Linked DNA regions of Homo sapiens: region 1 is linked to region 2. The links come from fine-mapping of genetic effects on gene expression. A gene starts in region 2. The other region holds a variant in brackets. All regions are shown on one strand. Distances are between the middles of the regions.

Region 1 (4,522 bases), 21 kb before region 2:
CTAAAACTAAAATAAAAATAAAAACCATGAATTTGGCTGGGCATAATGGCTCACACTTGTAATCCCAGCACTTTGGGAGGTGGAGGCAGGCATATCACTTGAGCCCAGGAGTTCAAGATCAGCCTGGGCAACATGGCAAAACCTAGTCTCTACAAAAAATTTAAAAATTAGCTGCATGTGGTGGCAAATACCTGTAATTCCAGCTACTCTGGAGGCTGAGGCAGGAGATCTCTTGAGTCTGGTGGGTGTGGGGAGGAGCACAGGGAACTCACAAATTTGAAATTTAGATGGACAAGCAGAAAGCCAGGATATTCCTGCAGTAGCACCAGATGGGAGGCCTTGCTATACTTTACCAAATATTAATATTTATTATAAAGCTAACAGTAATTAAGTCAATGGAGTAATGGCCCAGAGATAGGTAAAGACCAGTGGAACAGAGTATACAGCCCAGATACAGATATGAGCAAATATGGACATACGATACCTGACACACGTTACACAGCAACCCAGAAAGAATGGATAAAACAGTCAGCATGGGCCCACCGCGGTAGCTCACGCCTGTAATCCCAGCACTTTGGGAGGCCGAGGCGGGCGGATCACGAGGTCAGCAGATCAAGACCATCCTGGCCAACGTGGTGAAACTCCGTCTCTACTAAGATACAAAAAATTAGCTGGGCATGGTGGCACATGCCTGTAGTCCCAGCTACTTGGGAGGCTGAGGCAGGGGAATCGCTTGAACCCGGGAGGTGGAAATTGCAGTGAGCCAAGATCTCACCAGGCTGGTGACACAGCAAGACTCAAAAAAAAAAAAAAAAAAAAAAAACCACCACCAACAACAAAAACAGTCACCATGTAGGGCTAGGACAAATGGCTATACATGTGGGGGAAACTGCAATTAGATCCCTGCCACAAACATCACAAAAAAATTATTTTCAGATGGAGTAACCCACAGATATAAAAAACTAATTATCTAACTAAATACTTTAGAGAACTTAAAGGAAAATTTGTATGGCTTCAGAGCATGAAAGGCTTTCTTTACAAGACAAAAAGCAAAAAGCAGAAAAGACTGATATTTTGTCTTCACCAAAACTAAAATCTTAACTTATACATGAATGCTGATGGCAGCATATACTAGTCAAAAGGCAGAAACAACCCAAATGGCCACCAACAGAATCAACTGATGAATGAATAAACATTCATTCATAAACTGCGGAATAGCCATACAAAGAAATATTATTCAGCCATAAAAATTAACAAAGTATAGCCAGGCACAGTGGCTCACGCCTGTAATCCCAGCACTTTGGGAGGCTGAGGCAGCAGATCACCTGATGTCAGGAGTTCAAGACCATCCTGGCCAACATGGAGAAACCCCGTCTCTACTTAAAATACAAAAATTAGCTGGTGTGGTGGGGCATGCCTGTAGTCCCAGGTACTCAGGAGGCTGAGGCACGAGAATCGCTTGAACCTGGGAGGCGGAGGTTGCAGTGAGCCAAGATCATACCACTGCACTCCAGCCTGGGTGACACAGTCAGACTTTGTCTAAAAAAAAAAAAAAAGAAAGAAAGAAAGAAAGAAAAAGAAAAGGCCATCTTCAAGCCAGGGAGAGAGGCCTCAGGAGAAGCCAACCCTGCTGGCACCATGATCTTGAACTTTCAGGCTCCAGAATCATGAGAAAGTAGATTTTTGTTGTTTTAAACACCCAGTCTGTGGTATTCTGTTACGGCAGCCCTAGCAGACTAACACATATGATATGTACAGACAGGTAAATCCACAGAGACAGAAAGGAGATGAGTATTGGCCATTGGGTAAGGGGAGGCAGGATGTGGAGTGATTATTATATGAGTACTGGGTTTTGTTTTGTTTTGTTTTTTTGAGATGGAGTCTCACTCTGTCGCCCAGGCTGGAGTGCAATGATGCAATCTTGGCTCCCTGCAACCTCCGCCTCCCAGGTTCAAGCGATTCTCCTGCCTCAGCCTCCCAAGTAGCTGGAATTATAGGCACCCGCCACCACGACTGGCTGATTTTTGTATTTTAAGTAGAGACGGGGTTTCACCACGTTGGCCAGTCTGGTCCTGAACTCCTGACCTTGTGATCGGCCCACCTCGGCCTCTAAAAGTGCTGGGATTACAGGCGTGAGCCACCGCACCTGGCCTTGAGTACTGGGTATTTTTATAGAAAGATGAGAAAGTTTTGAAACTAGAGAGAGCTAGTGGTTACACAATATTGTGAATACACTAAATACCACTTAATTGTACACTTTAAAGTGGGTAATTATGTTACATTAATTTCACCTCAATTTTTAAAGAAGCCAGAACAGTCCAATTCATGGGACAGAAAGTAGAATGGTGGATGCCAGGGGCTGGGGGAGGGAGGATTGGGGAATTAATGTTTAATGGGGACAAAGTTTCAGTTTGGGAGGATGAAAAAGTTCTTGAGGCAGATGGTGGTGATGGTTGCACA[G/A]TTTGAATGGACTTACTGCCACTGAACTGTACCCTTAAATGGTTAAATGGTAAATCTACTATGCATATTTTACTATAATAAATTTATTTTACTTTTTTGCAGTCAATTTTTAAGCTAAAATATGGTGCTAATCAAAGGAACCATCATCAAAGTGAAAAGTTGAGCTGCATTCTGTGCTATCTTCTCGATTTTTCTATAAACCTAAAACTGTTCTAAAAAATAAAGTCCATTTAAAAGAAAATAGTCAAGCTTCAATTGGGAGAAGATATTTGCAACACACACTCTAGAGGAAATATTAAAGAGAATCCACCAAAATGTATAAAAAGATAGGGTTAGAAAAAAAGCCCACATTGCCAAGTCAATCCTAAGCCAAAAGAACAAAGCTGGAGGCATCACGCTACCTGACTTCAAACTACACTACAAAGCTACAGTAACCAAAACAGCATGGTACTGGTACCAAAACAGAGATACAGACCAATGGAACAGAACAGAGCCCTCAGAAATAACACCACACATCTACAACCATCTGATCGTTGACAAACCTGACAAAAACAAGAAATGGCGAAAGGATTCCCTATTTAATAAATGGTGCTGGGAAAACTGGCTAGCCATATGGAGAAAGCTGAAACTGGATCCCTCCCTTACACCTTATACAAAAATTAATTCAAGATGTATTAAAGACTTAAATGTTAGACCTAAAACCATAAAAACCCTAGAAGAAAACCTAGGCAATACCATTCAGGACATAGGCATAGGCAAGGACTTCATGTCTAAAACACCAAAAGCAATGGCAACTAAAGCCAAAATTGACAAATGGGATCTAATTAAACTAAAGAGCTTCTGCACAGCAAAAGAAACTACCATCAGAGTGGACAGGCAACCTACAGGATGGGAAAAAATTTTTGCAATCTACTCATCTGACAAAGAGCTAATATCCAGAATCTACAAAGAAATCAAACAAATTTACAAGAAAAAAACAAACAACCCCATCAAAAAGTGGGCGAAGGATATGAACAGACACTTCTCAAAAGAAGACATTTATGCAGCCAACAGACACATGAAAAAATGCTCATCATCACTGGCCATCAGAGAAATGCAAATCAAAACCACAATGAGATACCATCTCACACCGGTTAGAATGGCGATCATTAAAAAGTCAGGAAACAACAGGTGCTGGAGAGGATGTGGAGAAATAGGAACACCTTTACACTGTTGGTGGGTCTATAAACTAGTTCAACCATTGTGGAAGACAGTGTGGCTATTTCTCAAGGATCTAGAACTAGAAATATCATTTGACCCAGCAATCCCATTACTGGGTATATACCCAAAGGATTATAAATCATGCTGCTATAAAGACATATGCACACATACGTTTATTGCAGCACTATTCACAACAGCAAAGACTTGGAATCAACCCAAATGTCCATCAATGATAGACTGGATTAAGAAAATGTGGCACATATACACCATGGAATACTATGCAGCCATAAAAAAGGATGAGTTCATGTCCTTTGTAGGGACATGGATGAAACTGGAAACCATCATTCTCAACAAACTATCACAAGGACAAAAAACCAAACACCGCATGTTCTCACTTATAGGTGGGAATTGAACAATGAGAACACTTGGACACAGGAAGGGGAACATCACACACTGGGGCCTATTGTGGGGTTGGTGGGGAGAGGGGAGGGATAGCATTAGGTGATATACCTAATGTAAATGACGAGTTAATGGGTGCAGCACACCAACATCGCACGTGTATACATATGTAACAAACCTGCAAGTTGTGATCACATACCCTAGAACTTAAAGTATAAAAAAAAAAAAAGAAGATAGGGTTAGAATTAGGGTTAGGAGAACCCAGAGGAGAATAATAAGGTGGGGGCACGGCTTTGAGGGTCTTCATTCATTTTTATCCATCCTTAGACTTTCTGCAGACTAAGCTTCAAGTTTTCAACTGCTGCTACAACAAATTATCACAAATTAACAGCTCAAAATAACACACATTTATCATCATAGTCCTGAAGGTCAGAAGTCACGAATGGCTTAGAAGGTTTCTCTG
Region 2 (4,000 bases):
TGCTGGGCTCAAGCAATCTTCCCGGCTCAGCCTCTCAAGTAGCTGGGACTATCGGCACGCGCCACCACGCCCAGCTAATTTCTTGTGTTTTTTTTGGTAGGGTTTTTTCCCTTGTTGCCCAGGCTGGTATGGAACTCCTGAGCTCAAGCGATCCTCTCACCTCAGCCTCCCAAAGTGCTGGGATTATAGGCGTGAGCCACACGCCCGGCCTGGGTGTTTATGATTTAGAATGTTGGTGAGAGGTGACAGTGTGCTGGCAGTCCTCACAGCCCTCGCTCACTCTCGGTGCCTCCTCTGCCTGGGCTCCCACTTTGGCAGCACTTGAGGAGCCCTTCAGCCCACTGCTGCACTGTGGAGGCCCCTTTCTGGGCTGGCCAAGGCCAGAGCCGGCTCTCTCAGCTTGCAGGGAGGTGTGGAGGGAGAGGCGCGAGCGGGCACCGGGGCTGCACACGGCGCTTGCGGGCCAGCTGGAGTTCAGGGTGGGCGTGGGCTTGGTGGGCCCCGCACTCGGAGCAGCCGGCTGGCCCTGCCAGCCCCCGGCAATGAGGGGCTTAGCACCCGGGCCAGCGGCTGCGGAGGGTGTACTGGGTCCCTCAGCAGTGCCAGCCCACCGGCGCTGTGCTCGATTTCTCACCGGGCCTTAGCTGCCTTTCCGAGGGGCAGGGCTCGGGACCTGCAGCCCGCCATGCCTGAGCCTCCCACCCCCTCCATGGGCTCCTGTGCTGCCCGAGCCTCCTCGACGAGCACCACCCCCTGCTCCACGGCGCCCAGTCCCATCACCACCCAAGGGCTGAGGAGTGTGGGCGCACGGTGCCGTTCTCGCAGGCAGCTCCACCTGCAGCCCTGGTGTGGGATCCACTTGGTGAAGCCAGCTGGGCTCCTGAGTCTGGTGGGGATGTGGAGAACCTTTATGTCTAGCTCAGGGATTGTAAATACACCAATCAGCACCGTGTGTCTAGCTCAGGGTTTGTGAATATACCAATCGACTCTGCTGGGGCCTTGGAGAACCTTTGTGTCTAGCTCAGGGATTGTAAACGCACCAATCAGCACCCTGTCAAAACAGACCACTCGGCTCTACCAATCAGCAGGATGTGGGTGGGGCCAGATAAGACAATAAAAGCAGGCTGCCGGAGCCAGCAGTGGCAACCGGCTCAGGTCCCCTTCTATTGTGGAAGCTTTGTTCTTTCTCTCTTTGCAATAAATCCTGCTGCTGCTCACTCTTTGGGTCCACACTGCCTTTATGAGCCGTAACAGGTCTGCAGTTTCACTCCTGAGCCGGCGAGACCACGAACCCACCAGAAGGAAAAAACTCCGAACACATCCGAACATCAGAAGGAACAAACTCCAGACGCGCCACTTTAAGAGCTGTAACACTCACCGCGAGGGTCCGTGGCTTCATTCTTGAAGTCAGTGAGACCAAGAACCCACCAATTCCGGACACATTGGGAACTTAGAGCAGTGCTTGGGACATGGTTATCAGCGTCAGATATTTCCTTAAACTAGCGTGAAGTCGACTTTAACCTTCCAGCAGTGTGAGTGAGGGCCCTGACCCTAGAATCAACGCCCAAAGAGCTGTGGCGCTACAGCGGGCGGGGACATGGGGTGCGCATGCGTGCGGGGGGGTACGCGTGCGTGCAAGTGCGCGTGCGCGCGCAGGACCGCTGAGGCGGGAGCCCCGAATGCGGTTCTCGCTTGCTGCGTGGCGGTAAAGGACCGCAGGTGTCGTAAAAGGGCCGCAGTGGCAGCGTCCTGGCCGACGGCTAGTAGCCCATTTTGGATACCGTCCTCGCTGCGGAAAGTTGGGGCAACCTGTTGCTAGTCTGGTCGTTGGTGACAGCGAGGCTTCCGCGCTCGCTGCTGGTGAGCAGCCCCGGCGTGCCCCGCGGGCTGGAAGAGGCGGCGGCGTGATGCGGCCCGTGGACGCGGACGAGGCGCGGGAGCCCCGCGAGGAGCCGGGCAGCCCGCTGAGCCCCGCGCCCCGCGCCGGCCGCGAGAACCTGGCCTCCCTGGAGCGCGAGCGCGCCCGGGCGCACTGGCGGGCCCGCAGGAAGCTGCTGGAGATCCAGAGCCTGCTCGACGCCATCAAGAGTGAGGTGGAGGCAGAGGAGCGGGGCGCCCGGGCCCCAGCACCCCGCCCGCGTGCGGAGGCTGAGGAGCGGGTGGCTCGGCTGTGCGCCGAAGCAGAGAGGAAGGCTGCGGAGGCGGCGCGGATGGGCAGGCGGATCGTGGAGCTGCACCAGCGGATCGCCGGCTGCGAGTGCTGCTGAGCCGGCGAGGCCGCGCGGGTCTGGAGCGGAGCGCGGCGGGGAGTGTCCCGCGTGGAAGGCGCTGGGTAGGCAGGGAGGGGAGCGCAGAGCCGTGCCACGCTCTCCGCGGAGTTGGTTTCATTCTTTTTTCATAGGTAATTAGAGAAAATAATTTGATATGTTGTTGTAAAGAGTCATGACCACTGGAAGTATTTTCAGGACGTAGACCTGGTGGGTCACTACGTGGGGGGAGAGAGGTGTGAAGCGGAGGTACATGCTGGAAACGTGTGAATGTTGTTACGAGATTGGAGCGTTTGCGATGACCTTCCTGCAGGTGGAAGCATTGTGCACAGGTGGTTGGGTTTGTTTGACTCCCGGATATGAGAATATCAAGCTCAAAATTTATGTTGTGATGATGAATTTCTCCCACTTGTACTTTAGGTGGCCAACTGACGAACTGTGTTCACCTGATAAGGAGTCGTGGCTGCTTGGACAGGCTCAAACCAAGAGAGCCTTTCGTTTTGTCTCCCCTGTTTTTCTGCCTGCGTTTTCTCCACATTAGCCACTCAATTTCCAGTACCATCCTGGCGGATGACTTCAGCATTAGATGGTCAGGTGTATTTTTTTATTAATAGGCGCATTCAGTTTGGAAAAGACAGCTTTTCATTAATGTCCCACGTAAAGGAATATGGCCTATACAGTACGTACGCTGCTGCGTGGTCATATTTGTTCCTGTGATCTTATTGTATTTTCAAAGTTTGGAAGTATACTCGTGTGCTTTGCTGTTTTTTTATGCTTCCTGGAATTTGGGGACTCATGAGAGACTTGAGGTTAGAGTTCTGCAAGTGAGAAGACACTACATGGTTGCAGCTGCCACATGAAGAACCCAAGCTCCTGTCAAAGTTGTGAATGCGACTTTGGATGAGATTAAGAAGGCCCAGTGGACGGTTGGTCTTGAAGAGTGGCAGTGTGTGGATTTGAGGACCTCTGCAGACCATCAGATCAAAGGAGGGAGAGCTGTTTTGGGTGTTTTGTTTTTTTTGTTTTTATAGCATTTTGCTTTTTCTTGGAATGTAATTTTCCTATGGCATGTTAACTGGTGCACATCGTGTAACCTGTCTGGTGAGCAACCTACAATTGGGATGAGTTCTAGGTACATGTGTTTGCTGACTTTGGGGTAAACAACTTTGTTATAATACAGTCTCTGCCACAGATGCATGTGACCTCTTCAGGGGCCCAGAGTGGCTGAGGAAGGAAAGCTTCAAGCTGGCCATGGGGGTCCCAAACAGTCATTCCAGGCTTAGATGATGACTAGCCTAGGTCATCAGAGCCCAGACTCCACAGAGACTAAAATCAGAGCTCTGTCTTGTTATGATAAATTTCATTTGCTTGGAAAAAGAAATGCTGAAAGCCAGTGTTTAGAATCTTTGTGCAGATGACCAAAGCAATTGACTTGGCCAAGAAAAGGTAAGGTAAATAAACATTTTTCAAAATGAGTTTCTCCTTGATAGTGGTCACTGTCAAATGGAGGAGAATTGCTTCTGACTCACGAGTTGTTCAAAGCCTGTAGCCCAGGGTGGGGTTTGAGCTGCAGAAGAAGAAGAAGGCAGACCTAGAGTAGGAAAGGGGTGCCTCATGAAGCCATATGGTCTGGCCCCAGCCTTTGGAGAGGTGAAGTCCATTCAGGCAGCTAGTGTTCACTGTGACCACAGAGCTCCACACTATGCCAGGCACTAGGAATTTCTTGGAGAGAC

What was found. PIP is the estimated chance that this variant, and not a neighbour inherited with it, causes the effect. A credible set is the group of variants that fine-mapping cannot tell apart.
Region 1: its variant is the best candidate, but not a certain one, in a credible set for the expression of MRFAP1L2 in whole blood (Lepik 2017, PIP 0.60).

Annotation. Positions count from the first base shown.
Region 1 is chr4:6,651,523-6,656,044 of GRCh38, forward strand. No RefSeq gene overlaps it. Among named protein-coding and RNA genes, the nearest start is that of MRFAP1, 13 kb to the left of the region's middle. The variant G/A (reference allele first, on the strand shown) is at 2,461.
Region 2 is chr4:6,672,306-6,676,305 of GRCh38, forward strand. MRFAP1L2 (Morf4 family associated protein 1 like 2) reads left to right here and starts at 1,770. Exons shown (of 1, transcript NM_138699.3): 1 at 1,770-3,742. The coding sequence starts at 1,908. The coding sequence ends at 2,267. It overlaps LINC02482 (long intergenic non-protein coding RNA 2482), which reads right to left and starts at 1,576. Exons shown (of 2, transcript NR_134665.1): 1 at 1,379-1,576. RefSeq lists an enhancer at 764-1,372 and a silencer at 1,845-2,074.